7 linked regions of the Homo sapiens genome follow. The protein of the gene in region 3 purifies or fractionates together with the protein of the main gene of each other region. This does not show direct contact. Each region holds a gene or a part of one and is shown on either strand. Other genes may lie near its edges. The genes, in order: ZC3H13, CUX1, GAN, SPTBN5, CTNNA2, ZNF469 and MAP4K3.

Evidence for each region.
Region 1: the proteins of GAN (region 3) and ZC3H13 purify together in Homo sapiens (affinity purification with mass spectrometry; 2 studies listed by BioGRID and IntAct, with this or other methods). This does not show direct contact.
Region 2: the proteins of GAN (region 3) and CUX1 purify together in Homo sapiens (affinity purification with mass spectrometry, with the first as the bait; one study listed by BioGRID). This does not show direct contact.
Region 4: the proteins of GAN (region 3) and SPTBN5 purify together in Homo sapiens (affinity purification with mass spectrometry, with the first as the bait; one study listed by BioGRID). This does not show direct contact.
Region 5: the proteins of GAN (region 3) and CTNNA2 purify together in Homo sapiens (affinity purification with mass spectrometry, with the first as the bait; one study listed by BioGRID). This does not show direct contact.
Region 6: the proteins of GAN (region 3) and ZNF469 purify together in Homo sapiens (affinity purification with mass spectrometry, with the first as the bait; one study listed by BioGRID). This does not show direct contact.
Region 7: the proteins of GAN (region 3) and MAP4K3 purify together in Homo sapiens (affinity purification with mass spectrometry, with the first as the bait; one study listed by BioGRID). This does not show direct contact.

What each region holds. Positions count from the first base shown.
Region 1 is NC_000013.11:45,983,247-45,986,746, forward strand, and holds part of ZC3H13 (zinc finger CCCH domain-containing protein 13), read right to left. Parts: intron 2,516-3,500; coding exon 2,051-2,515; intron 1-2,050. UniProt on the Homo sapiens protein: Associated component of the WMM complex, a complex that mediates N6-methyladenosine (m6A) methylation of RNAs, a modification that plays a role in the efficiency of mRNA splicing and RNA processing.
Region 2 is NC_000007.14:101,824,126-101,827,625, forward strand, and holds part of CUX1 (Homeobox protein cut-like 1), read left to right. Parts: intron 1-3,500. UniProt on the Homo sapiens protein: May be involved in intra-Golgi retrograde transport.
Region 3 is NC_000016.10:81,317,962-81,321,461, reverse strand, and holds part of GAN (gigaxonin), read right to left. Parts: intron 1-3,500. UniProt on the Homo sapiens protein: Probable cytoskeletal component that directly or indirectly plays an important role in neurofilament architecture.
Region 4 is NC_000015.10:41,891,254-41,895,476, reverse strand, and holds the start of SPTBN5 (spectrin beta chain, non-erythrocytic 5), read left to right. Parts: upstream 1-1,423; 5' UTR 1,424-1,578; intron 1,579-1,919; coding exon of another isoform or gene 1,920-1,979; coding exon 1,980-2,195; intron 2,196-2,398; exon of another isoform or gene 2,399-2,415; coding exon 2,416-2,583; exon of another isoform or gene 2,584-2,700; intron 2,701-4,223.
Region 5 is NC_000002.12:80,646,166-80,649,280, forward strand, and holds the end of CTNNA2 (catenin alpha-2), read left to right. Parts: intron 1-1,419; coding exon 1,420-1,707; 3' UTR 1,708-2,615; downstream 2,616-3,115. UniProt on the Homo sapiens protein: May function as a linker between cadherin adhesion receptors and the cytoskeleton to regulate cell-cell adhesion and differentiation in the nervous system. Required for proper regulation of cortical neuronal migration and neurite growth.
Region 6 is NC_000016.10:88,381,636-88,385,758, forward strand, and holds the start of ZNF469 (zinc finger protein 469), read left to right. Parts: upstream 1-1,323; 5' UTR 1,324-1,619; intron 1,620-4,123. UniProt on the Homo sapiens protein: May be involved in transcriptional regulation.
Region 7 is NC_000002.12:39,434,486-39,438,646, reverse strand, and holds the start of MAP4K3 (mitogen-activated protein kinase kinase kinase kinase 3), read left to right. Parts: upstream 1-1,361; 5' UTR 1,362-1,659; coding exon 1,660-1,755; intron 1,756-4,161. UniProt on the Homo sapiens protein: Serine/threonine kinase that plays a role in the response to environmental stress. Appears to act upstream of the JUN N-terminal pathway.

The sequences.
Region 1 (3,500 bases), on a different chromosome or scaffold from region 3:
CAACAGAGTATTTTCTGACAACTAAAATGGGGGGAGAGAACTTAATCCTTAACACAATAAAAAGTATCTGCAAAAAATCTACAAACACCATACTTAGTAATAAAATGCCAGCAACAATCCTTTAAAATCTGAAACAAAGCAAAGCCCCTTCTACTTATATATATATATTTTTTTTTTTTTTTTTTTTTTTTTTTTTTTGAGACGGAGTCTCACTCTTTCGCCCAAGCTGGACTGCAGTGGCGCTATCCCGGCTCACTGCAAGCTCCGCCTCTTGGGTTCATGCCATTCTCCTGCCTCAGCCTCCCGAGTAGCTGGGATTACAGGCGCCCACCACCACGCCCGGCTAATTTTTTTGTATTTTTAGTAGAGACGGGGTTTCACTGTGTTAGCCAGGATGGTCTCGATCTCCTGACCTCGTGATCCGCCCGCCTCGGCCTCCCAAAGTGCTGGGATTACAGGCGTGAGCCACCGCGCCCGGCCCCTTCTACTTATATTTAACACTGTATTGATAAAGATGCTCAGAAGGTTACTGACAGAAAATTAATAATCAGAAAAGAAGAGCCAAATCAGTGTGTTCCTAGGAACATCTGTTAAGAGAATCTAATTAGATCAAGAAAATACAGCAACATCATTTAAATGTAAGATTAATACACAAATGCCAATTACCATTTCCAGGTACCAACAAAGCATTAGAAAATGCAATGTTTTAAAAGACACCATTTAGTGACATATGTACACAGTTATTCACTAAAGCACTGTTTGAAAGAGATAAAGATTGGAAAACCAAAATACCCAGTAATGCAGCACTTGCTGACTTTATGGTATATTCTACAATAGAGAACAAGTACCAAAAGAAGAAAATAGCTGTTTACCACAAAGAAAGACATGAAAGATATTTTTACTAGTTGAAAATAGTAGGATATAAAACAGTACATAGTTTTTTCCAGTGTTTTTAAAAATTAGTTTTGTAAAACCAGAGGGGAAAACAAATGGATATATATTTGCTTGTGTAAAATGTTTTTTGGGAAGAATACATACAAAGCTGGCAAAAGAGTGGTCAGGGTACAACGGAGGCTTTTCACTATATATCCTTTTATACATTCAAAATTTTGAACCATGTAAATACATAATTTACATCTTACAAAATGTAAAAGTACTATTTAAAATGGCAATAAAAAATAGAGGATACACAGGAAAAAATGTAAAAAATATTAATGAGAAATATTATAAATTGATTAAGTTGATGCATTGAAATAAAAATCCAACAGTTTTTTTATGAAATTAAAAACTGTTTTCTAAAATTGATATGAAAAAGTAAAAGGTCAAGAAAAGACAAGGCAGCTCAAAGAAGCTAAAGGACCCTCAACACAAATATGAAGCTGTAATACTGACCAAGGATTGACTAACAGACCAATGGAAAGAATAAAAGTGATCAAAGTTCTGCAGCAGTGTTTGGGGAGAGGGGAGAAAAGCAGGTGGAGGTAAAGAGAGGTCATGATAATTAAGTCTCAGCAGTTTGGAAATAGTTACAATATATTTAAGTCATTTGGGTGATGGCAAATACTTTTTATGAAAAGAAAAATGGCTCAAGATAATGACGTGTGGCAGTTTGACAGGGTCTGAAGCAAGTACAAATACTGAAGAATACACAAATCAGTCATTTCTGATGCCAACAATTCTGAAAACCCACCACTTTAATCCTACTTTAATTTAATGAACATTTTATCATATTTATACCTATTTAACAGAAAGCAACTTCCTCGTGATTCTACTTTTTTGTCTGATAGTGATTTTCTTAGTGTTCCACATTAATCAAGATGATAGGCATGACTGGATATACTTAGGGGGGGTCTAGCTCAAGCTCCATTTATCTTTTGCTATTTTAACTAGTAATTCCAATTAGGAATTTATAAGGAAGACTACAAGTTCAATTAATTAAAAATTACTGTGACAAAATGATAACAAATGTAAGAAACAACATATTAGAAATCTTAGGAGATTTTATACTTTCTATATAAGATATAGTTCATAGACAAGTCAAAAACCTTACCCTTTTCAGGTAACTCAGGAACCCTCCCCCTACTTCGGCCCATTCGGTCATTTCTAATTTCACTTCGAGACTCATTTCTGGACTCATTCCTTATTTCCGTACGAGAACTTTCTTCTCTCAAATGGTTTCGGCCATAACTCCGGGATTCTTCTGGATATGTATCCTCCTTTCGATGAGTATCTCGACCTTCACGGTCCCTGTAGTCATGGGCATCACGAGTGGACCGAGAATCTCTGGGATCACGGCTCTCTTTGGTATCTCTGCTATAATCTCTCATCTCCCTTGAGTCCCGCATGTCTCTGGAGTCTCTTAGTTCCCTTCGGTCCCTAGTATCTCTGGCATCTCTCCGATCCCGACCATCTCGAGGTTCTCTGTCATCTCTGTGGTCTCTAGAAGAGCTCTGATCCTGTTCATATTCTCGTTCTTCTCTTGAGTCCTTTTCTCTGTCTCGTTTGCCCCTAGTATCTGTAATGCAATTTTGGAAATTGACTGTAATTGCTTTTACAAAGTTTCAGGAAACTAGAAAACATATTTAATACAGAACTTTAAAAATTTTATTATAATGACAATTCGTGTTCTTTGCAAAAAATAAAGAAGCTAAAATTCCAAAGATAATTAACACCTGATAAGAATGTTCTTCATTAGATAAACTCCGAACATGAATTTCCTCTGCCCCAACTTACCTATACTGCCCCAACTCACCCCAACTTACCAGATCCTAAACAACTGAAACAAATAAGTTCATCTCCTATCATTGACGGCTTACTTTTCAGAAACCACTTTTAGATACAAAGACACTTCAGTTACTTTAATCTTTTCTATCAACTATTAAGTTAGGCTAAACTAGACCATCTGTGACCTCCTCAAATGTACTTAAGCACTTTAGGGTAGCCTATGGTTAGTAAGCTAGCTGGTTGAGTGATACTATTATTCACTCTCTTTTCCTGCACTGTTTAATGGTATAACATTCATGTGTGCAAGTCTTTAAAGCTTTCTCTACTTAGAGCATTTTCTAGCTGGGTGACGTGGCATGTACCTACAGTGCCAGCTACTTGGGAGGCTGAGGTAGGAAGATCACTTGAATCCAGGAGTTTGAGTTCAGCCTGGGCAACATAGGAAGATGAGACTTTTTCTCTTTAAAATGAACGAACAAAAAAGCATTTCATACAAAAAAATAAATACTTGCACTTTTTAAAAGCTGAACCACAGTGATTATCTAAACAAACCATGTCATTTTATAATAAAGAAATAGAGGCCCAAAACTTAGATGGCTTAGTCAACCCCATAATTTGCAAAGATTAGAAACCACTCTTTACATATATTTAGAAAGGGCACAAATTGATTATAACAAATCTGATATGAAGCCAAAGAATTAACAAGAGAACCTCAAAGGATAAATTCTGCCCTTTTTATCAGATTCTTCTGCAAGGTGCTCTTATACTCTGGAATT
Region 2 (3,500 bases), on a different chromosome or scaffold from region 3:
CGCCCAGCCTGGAGTGCAGTGGCACAAACTCCGCTCACCGCAACCTCCACCTCCCAGGTTCAAGTGATTCTCGTGCCTCAGCCCCCCCGAGTAGCTGTGATTACAGGTGTGCACCACCACGCCCAGCTAATTTTTGTGTTTTTAGTAGAGACAGGGTTTCACCATGTTGGCCAGGCTGGTTTCAAACTCCTGACCTCAAGCAATCCACCCCCTTCGGCCTCCCAAAGTGGTGGGATTACAGGTGTGAGCCGCCGTGCCTGGCCTCCACTCTTTTTAGACACCTTTGTTGAGTTGTTGTTTTGGGCCTGTAAGTTTCTCTGGCTTATTACCACTTTCCCCTCCTGTTTCTAGGGAAGAAATGATTATTTAGATAAAAAATAATTTGATAAAAGGTAGCAGATGATACCAAAGGTAAATCTTTGTCTTGAAGAGCCTGAAGCTGTGAGCATTGGTAAAGCCGTGGGCTGCAGTGAGGGAAGGGCCGGCTTGGAGCCGCCCTCAGCCTAGCCTCCGGGTGTTACCTGGAGCCCTTGCTGTCAGGACGGCCTGTCACTTCTCGCCCTTCTCCTGCCCTGCCAAGCCTGTCCCTTCCTGTGTTGTGACAACTTTTTTTTTTAAACAAGTATTTCTACAGCTCCATTATTTTGAGATTCTTGGAAGAAAGATACTATGTAAATGAAAATTAAAAATAAAATTCTCGCTGGAGGGAATCGTATACATGTAACGTTTTTGATGAGGTTTGGAAAAGACTTTCGTTCTCCCTCTGGAACTGGGAACATTCTGTGGCTCCCGTCACCATTTCTGTGTCACTCTGAAAGGTGTGGCAGATAATGGTGAAACATATTATTTTCTGTTTTTCACCAAGTAGTTGACCCAGAACTTGAACCCATGCAGTCCTGGGTCCAGTGAATTATTTCTGCTGCATACAGTTCTGCTGTGTCCTCGCCGAGAGCGTAGTCAGCAACCGCCCGGAGAATACCAACCTTTCAAAAGAAAAAGGGCTGGAGTCCCCAACATACAGAGATTACAGCTAAAATTACGACCAGAGCTGTTAATCAAATCCCATCTTCCCTTCCTATTCACACAGTAGAGATGTTATAAGTCATACAGGTTTGAGACAGAAAATTGAGAGCAGAGGAGCATGTGTTTAAACCAGCATAGAAACATTCATTTACCAGAATTGCTTTATTTCAGCCGTATCTCAACTCGTTGCTTACACAGTAACGCATGCTGTCTCGTCACTCAGCCAAGTGGGAGACAAGTTCAGGTTTCTGCTCCATGGGATCCAGGAGCCTGCAGTCACCGATGAGCCTGGAGGACCACAAGGTGGCCAGGGCCCTTGGAGAGCTGTGCTGCGGAATCGTAAAGCTACCATCCGGAGCTGGCCGTCCCAGAGGGAAGGCTTGGTCATCTCTTCCCCTCCACCTGGTCCTCAGCCCTGGTCCCGCAGTTTGTCATCCCGCAGTTTGTCAGCATCGATGTGGGACTGGGAGAGGAAGGATATTGCCAGTTATGGTTGAATGTCATTGTCAGGGGAGTAAGAAGTAGTTTGTGATTGTTTTACGTGGCTCTGTGTTGGTATATAATTATGCTGTCATCTTAAAACGCCCTGATACCTTAATGAAATCTGTGTGTGTGTGTGTGTGTGTGTGTGTGTGTGTGTGTGTGTGTGTGCGCGCGCGCGCGCAGTTAGTCTTCGGGGCTGCTTATTGTGTGTGAGAGCCAAGTCTTTCTAACACACGAGCTGAGTGCGTCGTCTTTTACTTGTTTCAAAACTGCCCATTCGAAACAGGTCGCAATCCATTATAAATGCAGCTGCCAGATTAATCTTCCCGAACCATTGATTTCATCATGCCATTCCTCTCCTTAAACATCCATGGTGGCCCACTTAGGCACAGAGTGGAGACCACATTTCTTAGGGTAGCAGACAGAGTTCCTGATAGTCCTTTCTGCCCCACCTAAACCTTTTCCATCCCAGCTAGAATGACTCCAGAATCTTGCTTATTTGGGGGAGCTCCCTCCTCCTCCCTCTGTACATCTGAGCTTCAAGCCTACTTCAGAATTTTTTTGTTTTTTTTTGTTTTTGATTTTTTGAGGCAGGGTCTTGCTCTGTTGCCGGCTGGAGTGCAGTGGTGAGATCATAGTTCACTGAAGCCTTGACCTCCCGGGCTCAAGCAATCCTTCCACCTCAGCCTCCCGGGTAGCTGGGACTATAGGCATGCACCACCACGCCTGGCTGATTTTTCCATTTTTTTTTTTAGAGACAGGGTTTTGCCCTGTTCCCCAGGCTGGTCTTGAGCTCCTGGGCTCCAGTAATCCTCCCTCCTTGGTCTCCTAAAGTACTGGGATTATAGAGGTGAACCACTGCGCCCGGCCTTCAAGCCTATTTCATGCATTCCTTTTTCTTTTGCCCCTGTGTGCCCGGCAGTAGTGATGGAGACTTAAAATAGCAGTGGCTTCCCGCCTAGAGGGCGGACAGGACTGGCAGGACGAGGCTGGGATGGATGGAGCAGTGTGTCTGAGCCTCTGGGAAGGCTGCAGGAAGGGCTTGGAAGGCGGGTCGGGGAGTGGGCAGGGGGCGCCCACTGAGTTCTGTGTGCTTGGGGAGGTGTGGGAGACAGGGCTTTCCAGCAGAACAGTCGTGGGGTGGCCGGGGATCTCTAGGGCTCCCCTCTGAGCTTGGGTTCCCTCCCTCTGCCCTGATTATCCCTTGGGTACCCACCACACCATCGCCACACAGGCCCCCACTCTCTGCCTTGTGTGTCCGATTTAGGACTCATTCAGCTGGTTAAGAATGCAAAATTAATTCTTTTTTTTAATATAGTGAAAGCAGGTAGATTATATTAAAATGGCTGTGTTTTGAAAGCTACTGATAGGTACACCTATGGAATAGATGTTTCTTTTTCAGTCCCATTAATTATCTTTCTGTGCAAAGTAACATAAGTGTTACTTTTTCAGTCCCATTAATTATCTTTCTTTGCAAAGTAACATAAGTGTTGGTTAAAATACAGTTGACCCTTGAACAACATGGGGATTAGGGGCTGATCCCTTCTGCTGTTCCCCCTACCCCACCTGCACAGTCAAAAATCCACGTATAACTTTTTTTCTCCCCTCCCCTCCTTCTCTTCTCTTCTCTTCTCTTCTCTTCTCTTCTCTTCTCTTCTCTTCTTTTCTTTTCTTTTCCTTTCCCTTCCTTTTCAGACGGGGTCTCATTCTGTCACCCAGGTTAGAGTGCAGTGACATAATCATAGCTGACTGCAGCCTGGACATCCGGGGCTCAAGCAGTCCTCCCACATCAGCCTCCCAGTAGCTGGAACTACAGACACTCACCAGCATGCCTGGCTAATTTTTAATTTTTTTCTTTTTTTAGAGACAGGGTCTTGCTTTGTTGCCCAGGCTGGTCTTGAGCTCCTGGGTTCAAGTAATCTTCCTGTCCCAGCCTCCTAAAGAGCTGAGATTATAGGCATGAGCCACCAGGCCCACATAAAACTTTTCATTCC
Region 3 (3,500 bases):
ATAACAAAAACTAATTTAAGAACATTGAAGGAGACATCACAGGAGAAAATGCAAACTATAAGAAGAGGCAGAAGTAAAAACAGTATAGGTAAAAGAGTGAGGACTTATCCACTAGAGAAAATTAACCAGAGCTAGGTTTTACTCCTATCACATTACTATTACTCATAATAACAATCCTCGGGAAAGTTCTACGATAAATCTGAACACCCCACACTTCCCTCTATGCTACAGACACTAGTCTAACAAGAATTTTGTTGATTTGTTTCATCATTTGAAACCTTCCAAAAACCTCTCCAGAATTAGAACATCTACTGCTACTAATAGTGGCAACCACTGTGTTATATAAAATAAACAAATATCTTTAAACTGACATGAGTAATCTGTGTTAAATTGAAATTTACAAGTGCTTAGTTTCCTTAGAAGCCTGGATAAAATATGTCTTTGATCTTCTGAAACTGAACATAGTTATTATCGCTTTTGAAAAACTCAGTAAGAATAGGGTTTAATCAAACAAGGTTGTGATTACAAAAAAGAAAAAAGGAAAAAAAAAAGAAAAGGAAAATCACTGAGAACCATTAAACTATCAAGACCTTCTGGACAAATTTCATCTTCTGAGCAGTTGTTAGGAACGCCTTATAGTAAGTAGATAAAAACAAAGTCTAGATCCCTTAAAAGAGACTCAAGCCCAGCTTATTTTCCATCACCATAAGAGTACAAGGAACAGGTAATGTCAATTTTATTTTAAGTGTGCTCAGGATTTCAAAAGATACTCAGAAACTGGAGCTTCTAACTGAACCCCTGAGCACTAAGAAACTTCACAGGCTACAATCACTATTCAAGATCCTTATGACAATCATTCGGGAGCTGCTATGAAGACTATAAACTCGAAACACAAGTGAAGAAAAGATTATGAAAATATTGTAAAGAAAGCAAAACATTATTAACTGAACATTACTGTGAAATCACTTTGCTTCACAGCCAGACTCTCATTACCAGGGAACACTTAGTGGATACTGCTGCCTCGGGAGTGTATTCTCAGCATTAACAGGGAAGCAAAGAATCTAATAAGAGGCTATGCAGTTATTCACATAAATTAATCAACAAAAGTAAACTGGGGATGAAAAGCAGGCTCTGCACACACCACATAGTACTCACGGACTTTAGTGCCCATGTGACATTAAACTACAGTGTATGTTTCAGATATTCAAAAAATAATGTCTATGTTACTATGAAACTTGGACCTCCTACAGAGATCCTATTAGTCTCCTTAAGTAGTTTCATCAGTATCATCTGTGAGTCAAACTTTATATTTAAATGGCAAAACAGGCTCATCAATAATTAGGCCTTGGAACATACCCAGATTAACAGCATAAAATAAATGATTGTTGTGATACAACTCTACAGGCCTGGATTTATACAACAGAATACCCAATAAAGTCCTGTATGACAGGGGAATGGAAATGCTTTAATATTAACATAAAACAAAACTTTAAATGACACAATAAAGCTATAAAAACAGAAACAGGTCCTCCTCCTCACAACACATACACATGAGGCAAAACAAAAATAGCATAGAGCTACATAACTTAGACTTAAAGGGGATTTGCTGTCCATGTAGCCCAACCACCTCACTTCACAGATAAGGAAGCTAGAGCCCAGAAAAGTCGCTCATGATGACCTAGGCTGGATTTGAGGCCCTATGTCTCATTCTATCCTCACTAGACCTGCCTTCTCTCAAAAAATAAGGGGGGGTCGGGGGGAAGCCACTTACATTCTTAGCTGACTCATCAAAGGATCTAAAAATCTTAGGAATCTTTTTTTTCATTTTCTCTCCAGGACTGAGAGCTAAACAAACTTTTGTTGCAATAGGTCTCCAGAAAACCCTAAATTTTACAAGTGATCACAGGACTGGAAACCTGTACAGAGCCACCATAATGTCACTGCAGAAGCACATAGCCGTTCATTTTCAAATCCTTTTCACATACATTACTCACCAAGAACCACAGCTCAGGAGAGAAATGGGTCTGAACTTTGCATCAGATCAATGGGACTGTGCCAGAATCGGAAGAGCCTCAGACATGAAGCAGACCAAACTGTAATATTCAAAAGAAAAATAAATTTCCTGCAAGCCGCAGGGAGCTTTCCCCAGAAGGTCTCAGAGTTGATGAGAAAGAAAAGGCTCTGTGGGTGCTTATGACTATGAATTCGGTTTTGCCATTCTTAGAAAGGTTGTTAGATATATATATATATATATAATCTATATCTATTTTTTTTTTAATTTAAGAGACAGGGTCTCTGTCACCCAGGCAGGCTGCAGTGCAGTGGCAGTCATAGCTCACTGCATCCTGGAACTCCCGGGGTCAAGGGATCCTCCCGCCTCAGCCTCCCGAAGTGCTGTAATTACAGCCATGAGCCACTGCGCCCAGCCTGTCAACTACTTTTAGGTTTAGTTTCCCCAACAAACCAAAGAGAAAATCTCACCCAGGAACCAAAAGGAGGAAAAGCTTTGGGAAAGGAGCATGCTGGGAAAGGGGCATGCATGCCATTTACTGAGCTGAGGGACCGCAGGAGGTCCTGCCTCCTTCCTGGAGCAGCTGCACCCTAGGGCTGCATGACACGTGCTCTCTCTACATAACCCGGGGATGCCAGTCCTCTCTGAGCTGACCATGAGGGTGTGTTGCCAAAGCTGAGTTTTCTGGCCTTTTCCTTTTATATTTAAAATCTTTCTAATATGGTAGGATTGCTAAGGGTGTCAGCAGGAAAAACAAGGGCTAGACCAAAGATAAAGCAGAATAAAAGATTAAACCAATAAGTCAAAAGACTTTTCTATATTAAGTAGAAAGTATGCCAAACAAGTTACTTTAATTCCCAGTGTGACAGAGTTGGACTGGCTTCCTTTGTTGGGCACATAGTAAGCAAAAGACAATACTGCTCCTATTTTTTATATACATGATTTATTATTGTACAGACTGGGTCTCACTATGTTGCCCAGGCTAGTCTCGAACTCCTGACCTCAAACGATCCTCCCGCCTCCACCTCTCACAGTGCTAGGATTACAGGTGTGAGCTACCATGCCAGGCCATACCACTGCTTCTAAACCACACAATCACACAACCACTTATGACAGTTACCAACACTAGGCCAAACACAGACATTAAACAAAATCAGAATTTTATAAAACTTCAGAGATTACCAAACTTTTGAACATTCAATTCACAGATTAATGATATCACAGATCTAAATGCTTAAGTTTCAAAAGGGAAAGATAAGAAACATCAAGTTCTAGAATACATAAATATATTTTGTTTCAATATAATTCTCTAAAGTGCTATTCAAACAAACAAGTACATTATAAAAGCCCAATATTATTGGTATTAAAATTACCAGTAAAAATACAAAATTAACAAATTTCTTTCTAGTTAGTGATACAGATTCGTCAAATTACTTTGAAACAGCTTCGGAATTGATAATTTTTAAAAACATCCCAAGACATTCTATCA
Region 4 (4,223 bases), on a different chromosome or scaffold from region 3:
TGGATGATGGAGAATGGGAAAGGACGTTCAAAGCTGAAAGAGCAGCTGAAGCCCAGCCTTGGGGCAGGAGAGCTCTGGTCCTGCTCAGGAAATGGTGAGTGGCCCATGGAGAGCACCCAGAGTGAGGGGGGCAGACTAGCCTGGTTAGGTAAGCTGGCAGGCTTCCAAGGCCTGGCTGAGGCAAGGTCTGGCAAGTCTGGATTTTCCTTCCCAGGCTGTGGGAGGCTTCACAGGCACGAGCAGAGCTGCACTGTGGAAAGGTGCGGGGTGGTGGTGTCCAGGATGCCGAGTTAGGGGGTCCGTGATGAGGACCCCCAGGGGCAGTGAGGGCAGAAGGGGGGGTGCACGGGAGGACCGCCACAGCAACTGCTGCGAGCAAGGGAGGGACGCAGGGTGTCTGGAAGCCAGCCGCTGCAGAAGGGGCCTGGCAGGGAGAGGACAGCAGGAGAGGAAGCGTCTCTCAGACGCAGGAAGCCGCACCCCACCCGAGACCACGGCACCTCTCAGCGTCACCCCTGACTGCCTGCAGTGGGCCCAGGCGGTTCAAGTGTGACTCATCCCTAGCCCAGCTCTCAAGGGCGCGCTGAGCGGCTGTCCTGCTGTGGGCTGTGGCTGCCAGGAGCGCCTCCCTGAGGAGCGGGCTGTCGCTTCAGAGGCTCCAGGGCCGCTGGAAGACACCCACACACACACACCCCAGCCCACACTGCTACCCTGAGTTTAGCCAGAGGCGGGTGAGACCCCCAGAATTAGAACTCGCCTTCACTCTGGCATGTAGTCCACGGCTGCTCGGGGAGGAAGGGATGGGCGCCCACCAGCTCCCTCTGCACCCCTGCCTCCGAGCCCCGGGCCACGGCCAGCTCTGTGGAGCCCAGAGTTAACACCGTGTCTCTAATTTTGGAGGAGACTCCACAGCCCTCGCAGTTCCAGGTCACCCCTTCCTCCAGGGAGCCTACCCTTCAGCCCCGGGCTAGGCAGGCTGCACTCTGGCAGGGCCTGGAAAGCCAAGCCCAGGGTCTGTGAGGCCCTCAGTCTATGGGCTGTTCCCTGGGGGTGAATGAGAAGACCACGGCCCAGGACGCTCCCTCATCCCCTCGCCCTGGGTGCTCACAGAGAGGCCCCAAGAGGGTACAGAGGGCAGTCTCAGATTGGGAAGTGCGTCCACAGGCTTCCCACAGAGGCTCTGCCCTTTGGTACCTCCTACGCAGACTGCAGCACCCCATGCGGTGGCAGGGCCGCTCCATGGGCCTCTGCGTCCTGGGAGCCAGGACCCCCACCTGGAGTTGGAGAAGTTGCTGGCGGGGAAGGGAGGATGATGAAGGAGGACATCATCTGGCAATGGCCCTGGAGCATTCCTGAACCACCCCCTCCCTGTCTGGGCCACGCCCTGTGGCAGGTGGGAGGACAATGCCGCCTGTGTGCCGTCACCCCAGCACGCTGGCTCAAGGGGAGGGCTGTGGTGCAGCCCTGCTCCAGCCTTGGCCTCTCCTGATGTCCCTCTCCCTCCCTCCACAGCCCCTGCTATCTGCCATCTCCATCCGTCCAGCTGGGCCGCCTCTGTGGAACCCAGGCATCACCAAGGTAAGCAGCCCCTGCTATCTACCATCTCCATCCGTCCAGCAGAGCCGTCTCTGTGGGACCCAGGCATCACCAAGGTAAGCAGTTTCCTGTCTTCCTTCCACCTGTCCCAGTCACTGTGGTGGAGGGACCTGGCAGCAGGGGCTCTGAGAAGAAGAATCTGGAAGGTGGGGTGGGGCAAAGGGGGCCCTGGGCCATTCAAGCACAGGGGACCAGAAGCACTGGCCCTTACCTGGCTGGGCTCCAAGCTGCAACCCCCATGAAATGTGAGGACAGTCTGGCAAGGCGGGACCCCAGGCCCCTGGTAGAGGGGCCATCTCCATTCACATCATCCCCTAATCTGCATGCCCTCCAGGTTTAGGGAGCCATCCAGCAGCTCCTCATCCCCAAAGTCTGCAGGGCTGATGGCTGGTCAGCCCCACAGTCCCCGGGAGCTCCTCGGGGCTGCAGGGCACCGCAGCAGGAGGCCCAGCACAGAACTCCGGGTCCCGCCCAGTCCAAGTCTCACCATGGACTCTCAGTACGAGACGGGCCACATTCGCAAGCTACAGGCCCGGCACATGCAGATGCAGGAGAAGACTTTCACCAAGTGGATCAATAACGTCTTCCAGTGCGGCCAGGTGAGTATAGCCAGCTGTGACCCACAGCCCACCCATACCAGGCCCCCAGCTCTGGCCAGTGGGCCTCCGGGGTGAGCTGTGGGGTCATCTGCCTGAGGCCAAGCTGAGGCCAGAGCTCCTTCTTCCAAAGCAGCTGCTCTGGGTCGTACCTCTCAGGTCCCAGGATGGGAGGACAGGTGAGGCTGGGCTGACCCCATACTTACCCCTGTCCCCTCCCCAGGCGGGCATCAAGATCCGGAACCTGTACACAGAGCTGGCTGACGGCATCCACCTCCTGCGGCTGCTGGAGCTCATCTCAGGGGAGGCCCTGCCACCCCCGAGCCGGGGCCGCCTGCGTGTGCACTTCCTGGAGAACAGCAGCCGAGCTCTGGCCTTCCTCAGGGCCAAGGTGGGCCCCAGGGAAAGGGGTCTGGGATGGTGCTGGGGCAGGCAGCTGGGACAGGCTGAACTACTGGGTCACCTTTCCTGCGCCAGGCCACTGGGCAGAACAGAGGAGCTGGGGCCTGAGTACAGGAGGAGTGGCTGGGACACAGAGGAGCAGAAGCCACGCCCTCCTCGCACAGCACCCCTGACTTGGAGAGCACCCAGCTGGCCATGGCAGTAGCAATCCAGGTCCCTACTGGGGTGGAAAATGTCACTGTCTGTCATAAGAGAGACTCACAGGATTCTAGGCCAAAAGAATCTTAGCGTTCTCTTAGGCTTTTCATTTCACAGATGAGGAAACAGAGGCCCTGAATTATTTACCAGGCAAGATCGATGGTTAACCAGCCAACAGAGCCCAGATGTGGGACTAAGACGGCAGGTGGGGAAGAGGAGCAGGGCCTGTCTTGGAGAAGGAGGGAGGAGGCCTCAGCAAATGGGGGGAGGCAGAGTCACCTGAAAGAAAGGGACAGGCTAAGGAGATGGGCACTAAAAGGAGGCCGGAGCTCCAGGGACAGAGGGACCCTCATGGCCAGGGTGAGGGGCTGGTGCAGGGGTGGGGTGGGGCAAAGGGATCATTGGAAACCGGGAACTGTGAAGGCCAAGGGCTCCTGGAGGTGGCTGTCCCTGGAGGCTGTGAAGTCACTGAGCTGGGCCTGGCTGGATGGAGCCTGACTGTGCGTGCCTATCACTATATCCTGGAGTGGAGCTTACATCCAGCCTCCTGGGGTGTGTTGGAGGAAAGCCAGGGAGGGGAGAAGCCCAAGCAAAGGGAATGGGAGTGACTGCTGTCCTGAGCAGGTGCAAGAGCAGAACGCTGCCAGCTGCAGAATGCTGGGCCCTAGTTGATCCAGGGACAATGACCCTGTGAGCCAGTCATCTCCCCTCCAGGAACTGGGGAAGGGTGTAAGCCCCACAGCCTTTGTCAGAGGTGTTGCAGCTCTCCCCAAGCTTTAATATACAGCATGTCACTGATACCTGTGAGGGTGACATCCTTGTCTCCATACACATAGGAGGCAACTGTGGTCTAGAAAGGATGACGGAGTTGCCGCAAACACACAGGGAATGTGTGGCAGAATGAGGGATGCATTCGCTTATGGAGATGCTCCCATGCCCTGGGCATTCTATGCAGGCGCTGGGCTCCACTAAGCAAAGCCCAGACCCCCACCTCAAGGCACCTGGCTTCAAAGGGAGACAGATTCATTGAACCCAGATCAGCGGTGTGCTGGTAAACGTTTAACAAATGATTCTCTGGGGGAAATAAAAACTCCAGTGTGCTGTATTCGCTGATCCTATGGCGTTAATACCCCCCATCACGGTGAGTTTAAGCCACCAGCGTGACATCGCTCAATAGGAAGTCAGGAGGATAGGCTCTCAGGAGCTGGGAGGAGCAGACAAACACCCCACTCACCAGAGGCTCCAACTCTAAGCCAAGGTGATTGACATGGCAGGTGGAATCCACCCCAGGAGCATGGGTGGGATCCTTTAGAGGCCAGCCAGATATACCAAAGTTTACCTAGGGGGACACCCAGGATTGCAGCTCCTCCCACAGGGCTAGTAGTGGCCGGCTGAAGCCAGTTGCCCTTCAGGTCTTATGGAAAGTCTCAC
Region 5 (3,115 bases), on a different chromosome or scaffold from region 3:
AGATCTACAGTCTCTCAGTTTAAACACTTTCTTAGTCACCTAGCCCCCAGAAGGCTTAATGCAGCTACAGTTCATGAAGTTCATGAATTACAGGCTACACAACAAATAATCTCTCCAACTAGGAACAGCATACTTAAGAACATCTTTGCTTCCTTCAGTTAACTGTAATTGATATATCTCATTAGTTGATGTTACAAGAAGTTTGATGAAAGATCAGACTATGCTCAAACATCCCTGAGGCTGGAATGATATTTGCAGTTCAGCTGTTAATTCTTTTCTTTCACTAGCTCACATGTAGACTCCTGGCTGATGGAGAGTCTAGGAAATGCATTTTTGAGCCTCACCAATCCTGAGCTCAGGATATAGAAATAGTGTATAGATAAATAGGTACTTCCATTGGTTGGGCTATAACATTGAGACATAACCCCAGCATCTGTGATGCAGGCAGTGAAGCAAGAAGGTTGAAGAAGATATTGAATGATCTAGTATACAGTACATACCACACTAACTACTTAAAGACAGAAAAAAGGTAACCCAAAATATTCCTGGCCTAAAAGTCTGGTGATGGGCCTCTAAACCTATTCTCAAGTTGTGACTTGTCTTGGCATTTTTAAAAGCCATCCTATCCAACAAGGTGACAGTACAGATGAGTAGTATCTTTAAAGACTAAAACCTGTGCTAGTTACTGGACCTCTGCATGTATCAGCTCTCTCATTCTAAAAGGGCATGACGATAATGCCTATATTATAGAGTTGTTAACAAGAGCTAAGTGGGAAAATACAAATTTCTCATAATAGTATTTGGCACATAGTAAATACTGAATATTTCATTAATGCATGTATGAGAAGGTCTCACTGAATGCTATGAGATCCTGACATAAGTATCAGTATTTATATAGGAGGTATACTGAGGACCTGTTAATAGTTAAATTGATACTCCAAGCTCAATTAACACCTCATAGAAGCAAGAACACCCATGGATTGTTCTTCTGCCTAAATGACTGTATCCTCACCAACCCTGAGCTCAAGATACAGAAATAGCCTATAGATAGATACTTCCATTTCTTGGGCCATAAAATTGAGAGGTAACCCCTTATAACTTTTTTTCTTTAGTGTCTGCCAAATGCTTGTCCAACATTTGAGTAAATGTCACCATTGCTAATTACCCTAATGTAATAATATGAGATGTTCTACTTTGGAAAACTTTTGTTACCTTGGAATTCCTACCTGCTAAGATGAGGGCTTTGCCATTAGCTGTATTGAGATTTTAAAAACCTTAACTTGTGATAATTTGCTCCTTTTCAGCAATACTATTTATTTGCACAAGGAAAACATTATTTTAACCGTGAAAGTACATCACCATTTTGTGAATTTGGGGCCTCCATTAACCCACATGTATCTCATTCTTTTCCTACTCTAGCTGGACAGTGCCACATCGCTTATCCAGGCAGCTAAAAACCTGATGAATGCTGTTGTCCTCACGGTGAAAGCATCCTATGTGGCCTCAACCAAATACCAGAAGGTCTATGGGACAGCAGCTGTCAACTCACCTGTTGTGTCTTGGAAGATGAAGGCTCCAGAGAAGAAGCCCCTTGTGAAGAGAGAAAAGCCTGAAGAATTCCAGACACGAGTTCGACGAGGTTCTCAGAAGAAACACATTTCGCCTGTACAGGCTTTAAGTGAATTCAAAGCAATGGATTCCTTCTAGGACGATAGGTTTTAACAAGAAAGCTTTTTCTTTCTTTTCTTTCTTTCTTTTTCTTTTTAATTCCATTTTTGTATGCATACCTGCCAGCTCGTATGCCTCTGGCATGGGGAAATTAAGGGAACAGTGTCTGTTTGCATGTAAGATGAGATGAGATCAATACTACTGATCCATCTGTAGCCTGGGAAGGAGACAGGACATTCCTGTACTAAGGTGGCACAGAGCTGTCCTTTGCAACATTCTCATAAAATTGGGCACAGAGTTCGCATTGGCGCAATATTTATGGGAGTGGGAGGGATGGGGAAAATAAACTTAACTCTACAAAAGCAAACTCTAATGCATGCAAGAATCATTAGGTTGGCAGGTATATGCATAAGTGAAAAATCTGGAAGTGTAATGGTAGAACATAAAACTTGTATTGCTTCTGTTTCAGTGCAAAAATGTACTAGCCAATACGCTTAAGTGTGTGGCCCATGAATTGAACAATTTAACCTTGAAGTCTATATCCGTGATATTATGTCGATTTTTAACTGAGGGGAAATTAACTAGTCCAGCCTAAAATGCTTCTTTTAATCTGCATTCTGTTTCCTCTTCTAGTTGTGCCATTACTAGTGATCATGTTTTTTTCCCCCCTTTAATGAAAACAATAAACATCTATTTGAGACAATTAAAATCCTTCTGGGGGCACTGGAAGCACAATACGGTGACCAATCTTGCTTTCATTTTTTTTTCTTTTTAATTTGAACCATGATTTTGCTAGAAATAGAAGGCCCAGTGGTGGAATATTAGAGGGAAGGAAACTGACAACGTGTGAAAGTTAGAGGCAAATACATAGGTGTAGCTTGGAGTGCTGGTATCTAATATACCATTGTATTCACTAACTAACTCAAAATAAACACATTTAATCTTGACATCTCAAGTATGTTTTCTTTTTTAATTTTTTAAGTATGTACTTAATAAAGATTAGAGCATCATCTTCCTGAAAATTCATTAAAAAAATGCATTATGTTTTGGTTTTTAGAGATTAGTAATAAAATTTTAGAGATTAGTAATAAAATAGATGATATCCAAATAATTGTCATTTTTAGAGTTCACATATTTATTTTGTGGTTTGTTTTTCCACTTGTTTTCATTCACTTTCATACTGCATTGAAAATGACAGTCTTTCTTTGTAATAGAAGAGCCAATTAATTTAAAAATATTTTACTCATTTTAGACTTTTTCCTTTTAAGTAAGTTGGAAAAACAGGACCTCTGTCCCATTATTAAAAAGTGGTGATAGTATTTCAACTATGAACTGAGAAATGGAGAAAAAGTCCCCAAATAGTCACCTGAATTCTCCAAACTCCTCTCATTGGAATGATTGCTACAAGTTATCACATTACCATGTCTCCAAAAGGCTTCTAGTAAAT
Region 6 (4,123 bases), 7.1 Mb from region 3:
CCCAGGACCTGGAGGCCCCAGATGATGCCATGGAAATGTGAGCCAAGCCTCGAGCCTCTGGGGCCTTTCAGCCCCTGCCCCTTTTTCAATTCACGTTTTCGCGTCCACTGGCAGGAATGCCATGTGCTGCGATGCCAGCACAGAAACCCCACTGCCATGTGCAGTTCCTTTTAGTTTATTCTATACCGTTCGCAGAGTCCCAAAACAGCTTCAGGAGGCAGACCAGATTGGGGGAGGGGCAGGCCCACTCATTGGCTCCACCAGAAGGCCCGTGGTTAGGCCACACCTTGCTTTACATAATAAAGGTGTCCTTAAAAGGGTGTGCAACTTGAACTTGCGTAAGTAAAGCGTGCTTGACCTGCTCCCGGGGGACCTTTGTCTGAAGGACTAATTCTGAAAGCATTCCTTTCTGCGAAGTCCCCCCACTGCCACCCTATTTCTTAGAAGTCCACCAAGTTCATGACTTGGGATCCTCTGAAGTGGGGGAGGGCGATCCGTCCCCAGATGCTGCCCGTAACGCTGCACCCCTGCCCTTGGAGGAGGCCCACACGCCCCTGTCTGGGACAGCCGGGGACGGGCACGTACTGGGCCAGGGGGCTCTGCCTGGAGCCATCTCCGCCGTGTGGCCTTGGGCAGGTTCCTTGTCTTCTTCAGGCCTTGGTTTCCTTGGCTGTGAATGGAGATGTTGGACAAATGACCGGTAAGGGCCTCTCCCTCTCTAGGGGCCTGGATGGCTCCTAGCGCCCCACCAGCAATGCTGCCGAACTCACGGGCCAGTCTGGGGCAGTCCCAGGGCTGGACAAGGGACCCAGAGTGGAGACACGAAGGTCTGGGGGCAATGTTAGCTCCCACCTATGAGAAAGCGTGCCATGGGGACCTCCTTATGGTGCCTTCGAGGGCCAACTTGAGCCACTCAAACCGAACTTGCCCAGGCAGGTGCCAGGTGCCAGTCGGGACATCCCCCACCTCCTAGACAGAAGCACAGGGACAAGCGTGTCATGTGTGGGCACCTGGGGAGCTGGAGCGCAGGCCAGGGATGGAGATAGAGCAGCCACTGGAAGCCACATGGGTAGCATTATGGCAGACGTTTTTTAAGTTGTGCTGAATGCAGCGTTTCCGTCTCAGCAGCAAGGCCTGCCATTCTGGGGTGGGCTGGCTGGGGAGTGTGAAGAGGGGGTTCAGGGAGCAATGCCTCAGGGCCCCCCATCGCCGGGGTGGGTCCCATGAAACAAACACCTAGGAAAAGCGGCGCTAAAAATAGCTGGGGGGAGGGTGCGGGGGCGGCGGAGTCTGTAACCTAAGCCGCCCCAGCCTCCGGGGGGCAGACCCCGCGGCCGCCGGCCGGCGTCCGGCCTTCCCAGCACCCGGCCCAGGGCTGGAGCTGGCTGCAGGGCTGGCCCGCGGCGACCTGGGCAGGGTGGCGGCTGCTCCCTCTCCTCCCACCCCGCCCCGAGGCGCAGCGCGCGGCAGAGCGGCTCGGTGCCCGGCGGGCGGGCGGCCCGGGCGGGCCTGCGGTCGGGATGAGGACGGCGCCTCCGCTGCAGAGCGCTGGGGCGGCGCGGGCCGGGAGCTCGTTGGCGGCGGCCGGCGTGGCGGGCGGAGCGGGCCTCGGAGCGGAGGTGAGTGCGGATGCGCCGCCTGGGCGCGCGCGGTGCCTGGGGACCCCGGGCTGGAACGCGGGGCGGGGGTGTCACCGGGCTGCGCGGGGGTCTCCGGCCCGGCTCCCGCTCCTGCGCCCTCGGGGGCCGCTCCCCGGCGGGGCCGGACCCTCCCAGCGCTCGCGGCGCCCGGCCCGGCTCCCCCGACCTCCTCCTCCCGGGCCCGGACGTGCGGGGCAGCGAGCGCCGGGGCCCGGCGGGGGCCGCAGCCTTGCCCGGAGCGGAGCGTTGGCAGCGCGGGGTCCGGCTCCGTGGGCAGTTTGGGAAGCGCCCGGGCAACGTACTGGCGAGGGCCGCGGAGCGAGGGGCTCGGGGAGCGGGACCTCCGGGCGGGGCTGCGGGGAGCGGGGCCCGGGCCGCCCCATTCATCGCGGATCGGAGCCGGGGGTGCCCCAGCCGTGCCGCCGCCTCCTCCGGGCCGCCCGCCCGGGCGTGCTGGCCCCGCGGCGCTCCGAGCGCGGCATAGGCTTGCGAGTCGGCGGTGTCAGCGCCCCGGACGGGGGTGGGAGCTTTGGAGCCCACCCTGGGGGAGACCACGCCGCACCCCCGCCCAGCCCCGCGCACCCCCAGAGGCTTTTGCAGAGCCGGGAAGTTGGCTGGACGTCTAGACCCGTGGGGACGCGGCGCCCCGCGTGGCGGCGGCCGGAAGGGAAGGCCAATGGGGCTCGGGGGACTCCCGCGGCCACCCAGTCCTTGTCCCTGCACCCTGGGCCGAGGGCAGAGGGACAGGTCCCCGGCGGGGGCGGGGGGGCAGCTCAGCTGCCAAGTCCGCTCCTGCAGCGGAGGCGGTTAACTGCTTCATCCCCAGCCGTGAGCCATGCTGGGCATAGGGAGTGTGCCACGTGTTATCACGTTTAATCCTTACGTCCTGAGATCCGTGTTAACCCAAGTCTTAGATGCAGAAACTGATGGTCAGAGTGGGCTGATGCTGGGAAGTGAGCACAGCACGCGGTAGTGTCGTGGACAGCCCCTGCCCATTCTGCCAAGAGCAAGTCTAGTTCCCTTCTGCCGGTCGGGTGGACAAAGGTGTCTTGAGGCCCTCTCAGTGCCCAGCCTGTCCTAGGTGCCCCCAGCACAGCCCACAGCCCTGCATTCCTGAAAATAAACAAAATAAACAGGTAAATGCCTGGACAGCGTCGGGCGTGAGGGCTGAGCAGGGAGCTCGGAAGCTGGGGCGGAGCTGCAGTTTTAGGAAGGGCAGCCAGGCACCCTCGGAGGAGGTGGCCTGGGAGACGTGTCTTCCATGCCATGCGCCTGGCAGGTCCCAGACCACAGGACAGAGCTCACCGGGAGGTGATCATTCTGCCCTGCAAATAGAAAAGAGGAAGAGGATATCTGAGGCAAAAAGGAAGGCCAGGGCCTTCTCAAAGGGAACCCAGGGGCCCCGCAGAGTCTCAGCTTGGGAGGCACAGGTGAAGGGTGTGTGGCTGTAATGCCCCGAGGCTGGCAGCTCTGGGCAGTGTGCAAACCAGGAAGTCCCAGGATTTCAGGGTCAAGGGAAATTTTGGGGTCATGAACTTCAACCCCCTCATCAGCGCTTCAGTCTCCACCAGACCCTGCCTCCAGGTTACTGACTCTGCTTGGATACCTCCAGTGACCGGGAACTCACTCCCCATCACAGCAGCCTGTTCCAGCCATTCCTGCAGTCCTACCAGCTGGAATGCACTGGTCCATCATCCTGAGGCAGCAGGCAGCACATCTGCTCAGCTGTTACACATGGCTGCCTTTGGATAATTTTAATAGGGATGGTCTCCCCCTGTATGCCTAATCTCTTCAGGTCATTTCTGACTTGACATTCCTGGTCAGGCCCCATCCTGCCACCTTCCCCTGGGAGAAATTCAGTGGGTTTCTGCCCTTTCCTCGTGTTTGCTGAACGGAAGTAAACCTGAACACCAGGGTGGCCTGGAAGCAGAGATGCCCTCCCCTCCTTTCTCCTGGAGTCTTGTCACCACCGATAGTGCCCTAGATATCAGGCCATGGTGGACTCATCTGGAGCCCAGATGGTTTCAAGACAAGCCCCCTACCCTCCCTTCCGGTTCTGACTCCTACTAATAATTCAGTTACCAGCCGGGGATGGTGGCTGTGTAATCCCTGCAATTTGGGAGGCTGAGACAGGTGGATCACTTGAGCCCAGGAGTTTGAGGCCAGCCTGGGCAACATAGTGAGACCCCATCTCTACTAAAAAAAAAATTGAAGTAAGTTAGCCAGGCATGGTAGTGTGCACCTGTACTCTCAGCTACTAGGGAGGCTGAGGAGAAAGGATTGCTTAAACCCAGGAGTTCAAGGCTGCAGTTAATGATGATCGTGCCACCGCATTCCAGCCTGCGTGATAGAGTGAGACTCTGTCTCAAAAAAAAAAAAAAAAAATTCTGTTACCCTGCCTGCCTCCTTGTCCAAACATAGGGCTGATGATGTGGGGAATGCCTGTGTAGTAGTTAAGAGTCCAGGCTCTGGGAACAGCTGCT
Region 7 (4,161 bases), on a different chromosome or scaffold from region 3:
TCAAACATCAATTTAGTCAACAGATACTCAAAGTAAACAATTTGAGAATTTAGTACATATGCAATTTTCCTATGAGCAAAAGGATTCAAAAGATTTTTTGAAAAAGTATGAAGCAGTTAACTCTAAGTAGTTTGCTCTACTATTAATTTATTATACTTATCCTTAACAGGTTTGATGAGACCTAGTTTCTCAGGAGCCACGAGGTATTAGGGAATATTAGTGGTTAGAAGGTGTGGTGCCTAAGGGGATTAGGAAAGCATTTCTGAAGCAAAACTCCAACGTGGTATTGCCAAAGTGGCCATCACCTAATTGATTAAAGCTCCTGCAAATGTCTATTGGGAAGTTCAATGAGAACAGAAAAATAACCTTCCATTACCCTCAAGCTTTCTTGGGCAAGTATTAACAATCGGAGCTGGAGTCCACATAGCTCAGATGTAAGACGCGCAATCTGGGTCTTAAGCAGGGTGGGGTTTTTGGGTAGGTAAGGTCACAGCTAAAGAGCTTCCGGATCGTCACGTGTTTATATTTCAGGTGCGGTAATAGATCTAGTCCACTCTCCACCCCTTCTTTACAGGGTTGCTTGACAGCCTGCGCAGTCCCCGCCCGTCTTTGATAATCCAACCCTCTTCGAAGAGGGAGGTCAATCACTGCTTTAGTTCTGCGCTCTGCCTGCCTCCCACGCGGGATGGTGGGCAGCTGTTCCGCGTGTTTTCCTCCCGGAGCTTTCACGCTCTGCCCACTGCACACACCTCCCTCGCGGCCCTCCTGGCCTGCCCTCCTTTGCACCCTGGCAGGCCAACTCCAAGGGTCCGAGTGTCGGTGACAGGGGCAAGCAAGCACAGCTCACTTTTCCTGGGGGTTTTCCTCACGGTGTGTTTAGTGACCCCTCCCCGCAATCCCAGAAAGGCTGCAGCACTCCATGGTATCCTACATGTAGCTGCTTCTAAAATAATAAAGGCTGGGACATTGGCTGTCTTGGATATTACCACTATGCTACCTGCTTGGAACTGGGACCAGATAGACCAAGGTCCAACTTTGTCGTTAGGGGAATCAGAAACGAAAAGAAGCCACTTTCTGCTAGTCCTAACCCCGGTCCCTGGGCCAGGCAAACCTTTTCAAGCGTCCGGCGGCAGCGGCCGGGCGCGGGTCCGCAGAAAAGCCGAGGCGTTTCGGGTCCCAAGCTGTTCCGCCGCCGGCCCCGGCCTGGCAGGCGCGCGGAGCCGGAACGCGCAAGGGGTCGGGTGCGCGCCAGGCCTGGCGCGCTCCCTCCGGGATCGCGGCTGCGCAGTCGGGCGGGAGTCGGGAAAAGGGGAGGAGGTTGGAGGAGCCGGAGTAAGGGGAGGGGGAGGAGCGGCGAAAGCGGAAGCCATGTTGGAGTTTCACCCCGAGCGAGGGGCTGCGAGGGTTCTCCTCTCCTTGTGGGTGTGACCAGGTTCGGCGCGGCGGCGGGCCGCGGGGGGCGGGGACGATTGGCCGCTTGTCGTCGTCCGCAGCGGCGTGAGGGGAGCGGCGGCGGCGGCGGCGGCCGCAGCGTGGAGCCGGGTGATTGTGACCGCCGGGGGAGCCGGGAGCCGGCCGCGGCGCCCTCTCTCCGTGTGGCCCCCTGAGCGGCCCCCCTCCCCTGCCCGGGAGGGAGGCGGGGGGCACCTGGGGCCCGCCATGAACCCCGGCTTCGATTTGTCCCGCCGGAACCCGCAGGAGGACTTCGAGCTGATTCAGCGCATCGGCAGCGGCACCTACGGCGACGTCTACAAGGTAAAGGCAGGGGCCGCGCGCCGCCGAGGCCGTGGGATCCCGACCCGCAGCCAAGCCTGGGCGTCCGAGCCCTTGCCGCCTGTCCTCGGGAGACGCTGGCGCCAGGGAGCAGTCGGGGAGGAGGAGCTGCGGACGCCAAGGGCTCTGCTGCCTTGGTGAACAAAGGGCCGAATGTTTAACCCCGAGACCTCCCCAGCCCTTACCTGAGCCCCCCCGGTGGACATGATTTTTGCCACCTCCCTTCTTGCGCGCATTTCCAGGGAAGGGCAGAACGAGAGCAGGCCACACTGCTCATCCATAGTGCAGAGAAGGTCTGGGCGTTTGTTGCGTTGGCAGGGTCAGCGCGACGAACCGGACAGCAGGGGTCTGGTGTTGTCAAACCTGCCTGCTTCACGCCAACCTGGGGTCGTCCGCTCTAGGTTGGGAGCTGCTGCCCACCAGGCCTCGGTGGTAGTTATTATACTATGCTGAGCGACCTCCATCTTCCATCGACAGCTCTCAGCCTTTAGCGCCTTATTCATCCCCCTGTCAGTTTCTTTTAATTTTCCAGAGTAATGACTTTTTTTTTTTTTTGGAAAGAGCAACTTTGTTTTCTCTAAGTCGAATTGGACTGCGATGCCATTTAAACTTGTTTTTTAAAAAGTGACTTGAATACTTAGGGAAGGTACTGGTTTGACAAGGTTAGAATTCAAAGTCCAGTAGCGGTACAGCATTCCTGTTGTAGAGGGACCACTTCTAAATGTGGGAAGATAAATCACTCTTCCCTGGCCAACTCAACTCTTGGCCTCACAGTTACTGCCAAGAAGAGAGGAGGTTGTTGCCAAATGTGGCAGCAGTCTTGATTTAGTTGTGTATCTTCTTACTGGTAACTGAAGTTGAACTCCTCCAGTTTCACATAACACCTGAGGATGCACAAAGAAACTTAATTTTGCATTGGAAAGTTCAGTCTTAACTTTATTTTGCCCATGTTTAAGCAGGTTTTTACTCTTCAGTGTAATGCCTGTGGTAACTTACATATTTAATACAGTGCAGCCAGTGTTCTGCTTTAGTCTGATTTTCTGGATGATCTACTTTTCACCATCGTGGATCTCATCACTTTTCCTACTATGCAATATAGATATATTGAGCCCACCTACAATGTATGAGATACTTGGCAAGTAAGCACTTTGGGTTGTAGCAGTAAACGATAGACTTGGTTCCAAATCTTCCTAAGTGTTTCTATTTTTTTGGACAAGGACAGTATTAAATAGCCATTTAAATAATTATTGCCGTTTAATTTTGTGATGCAGAAAAGAGTATTAGGATCAGGGTTATGAGAGCATGTAATAGGAGGACCTGATCCTGTTTAGGGTATCAGACGCTCATCGCCTTTCAGCTGAGATCTCAGAGATGATTAGGCGTTGCTTAGGGTACTGGGGAGAGGGGATTACGCCAGATAGGGGAGCATGATATGTGAAGGCTCTGAGGCCCGATGTGAAAGAAGGCCTGTATAGCCTGAGCAGCCAGAGCGGGAGGGTGGCCCTAGATCTTGCAGGCCTCTTAGTTCTCATTAGGAGATCGGACTTGTTTAGGACAATGGGGAACTATTGCAGGCTTTTAAGCAGAGGAGTGACATTAGATTTAGGTTTTTAAAAGAGCTCCCTACTACAGCATGAAGAGTGGAATGGAGCAGTTGGGAGGCCACTGTGATAGTCTAGGTAAGAATAATGGTGTTAAGGAATATGGTGATGACTGTGAAAGTAGAAGTGGATGGATGCAAGTCACTTATGACTGGTTGGGGGAGTTCGCTTATATTGCGATGAAAAGTTAACTAAAACTCGATGAATGTATACGTTTTAGGTGGCAGGGTATACAGTGAATTTTTTTACAGGACTAATTGGCTGTGTACTTGCTATATTAAAAAGAACAGTTAGTAGTTAAGCCACATGATTAAAAAGCAAAAAAAAATTAGGGCCTGTAATTTCCTAAGTGTAATAGAGGTATACTAAGTTGGTTAATCTTGTCATTCGTTTAAAATAATGATAATACTAGCTGATGTTTATGGAATGCTTGTTACTTGCCAGGCACTATAAGATTTTTCTAATTAATCCTAACAGCAACCCTGTGAGATAGGTGCTATTGTTAACTCCATTTTGCAGTTGAATAAACTGAGGCACAAGGAGATTAACTTGCCAAAGTTGGTAGGTGGCAAAGCCAAAATTTGAACCAATTAGGGACTGTATTCTTAACCAATTGGCAGTGCTGCCTCTCTAAAGATAGGAGATGGGCAGATAATGTATTACATTTCCAGTGGAGAAACTGAGGCACACATTTAGTTTAGCATTTGAGTTGTAGCCACACTCTGAGTCAGTGTAGATCTTTAAGTAGTAGTTGGAATACCTAATTCCTGCTGTGCCACAAGGTCTC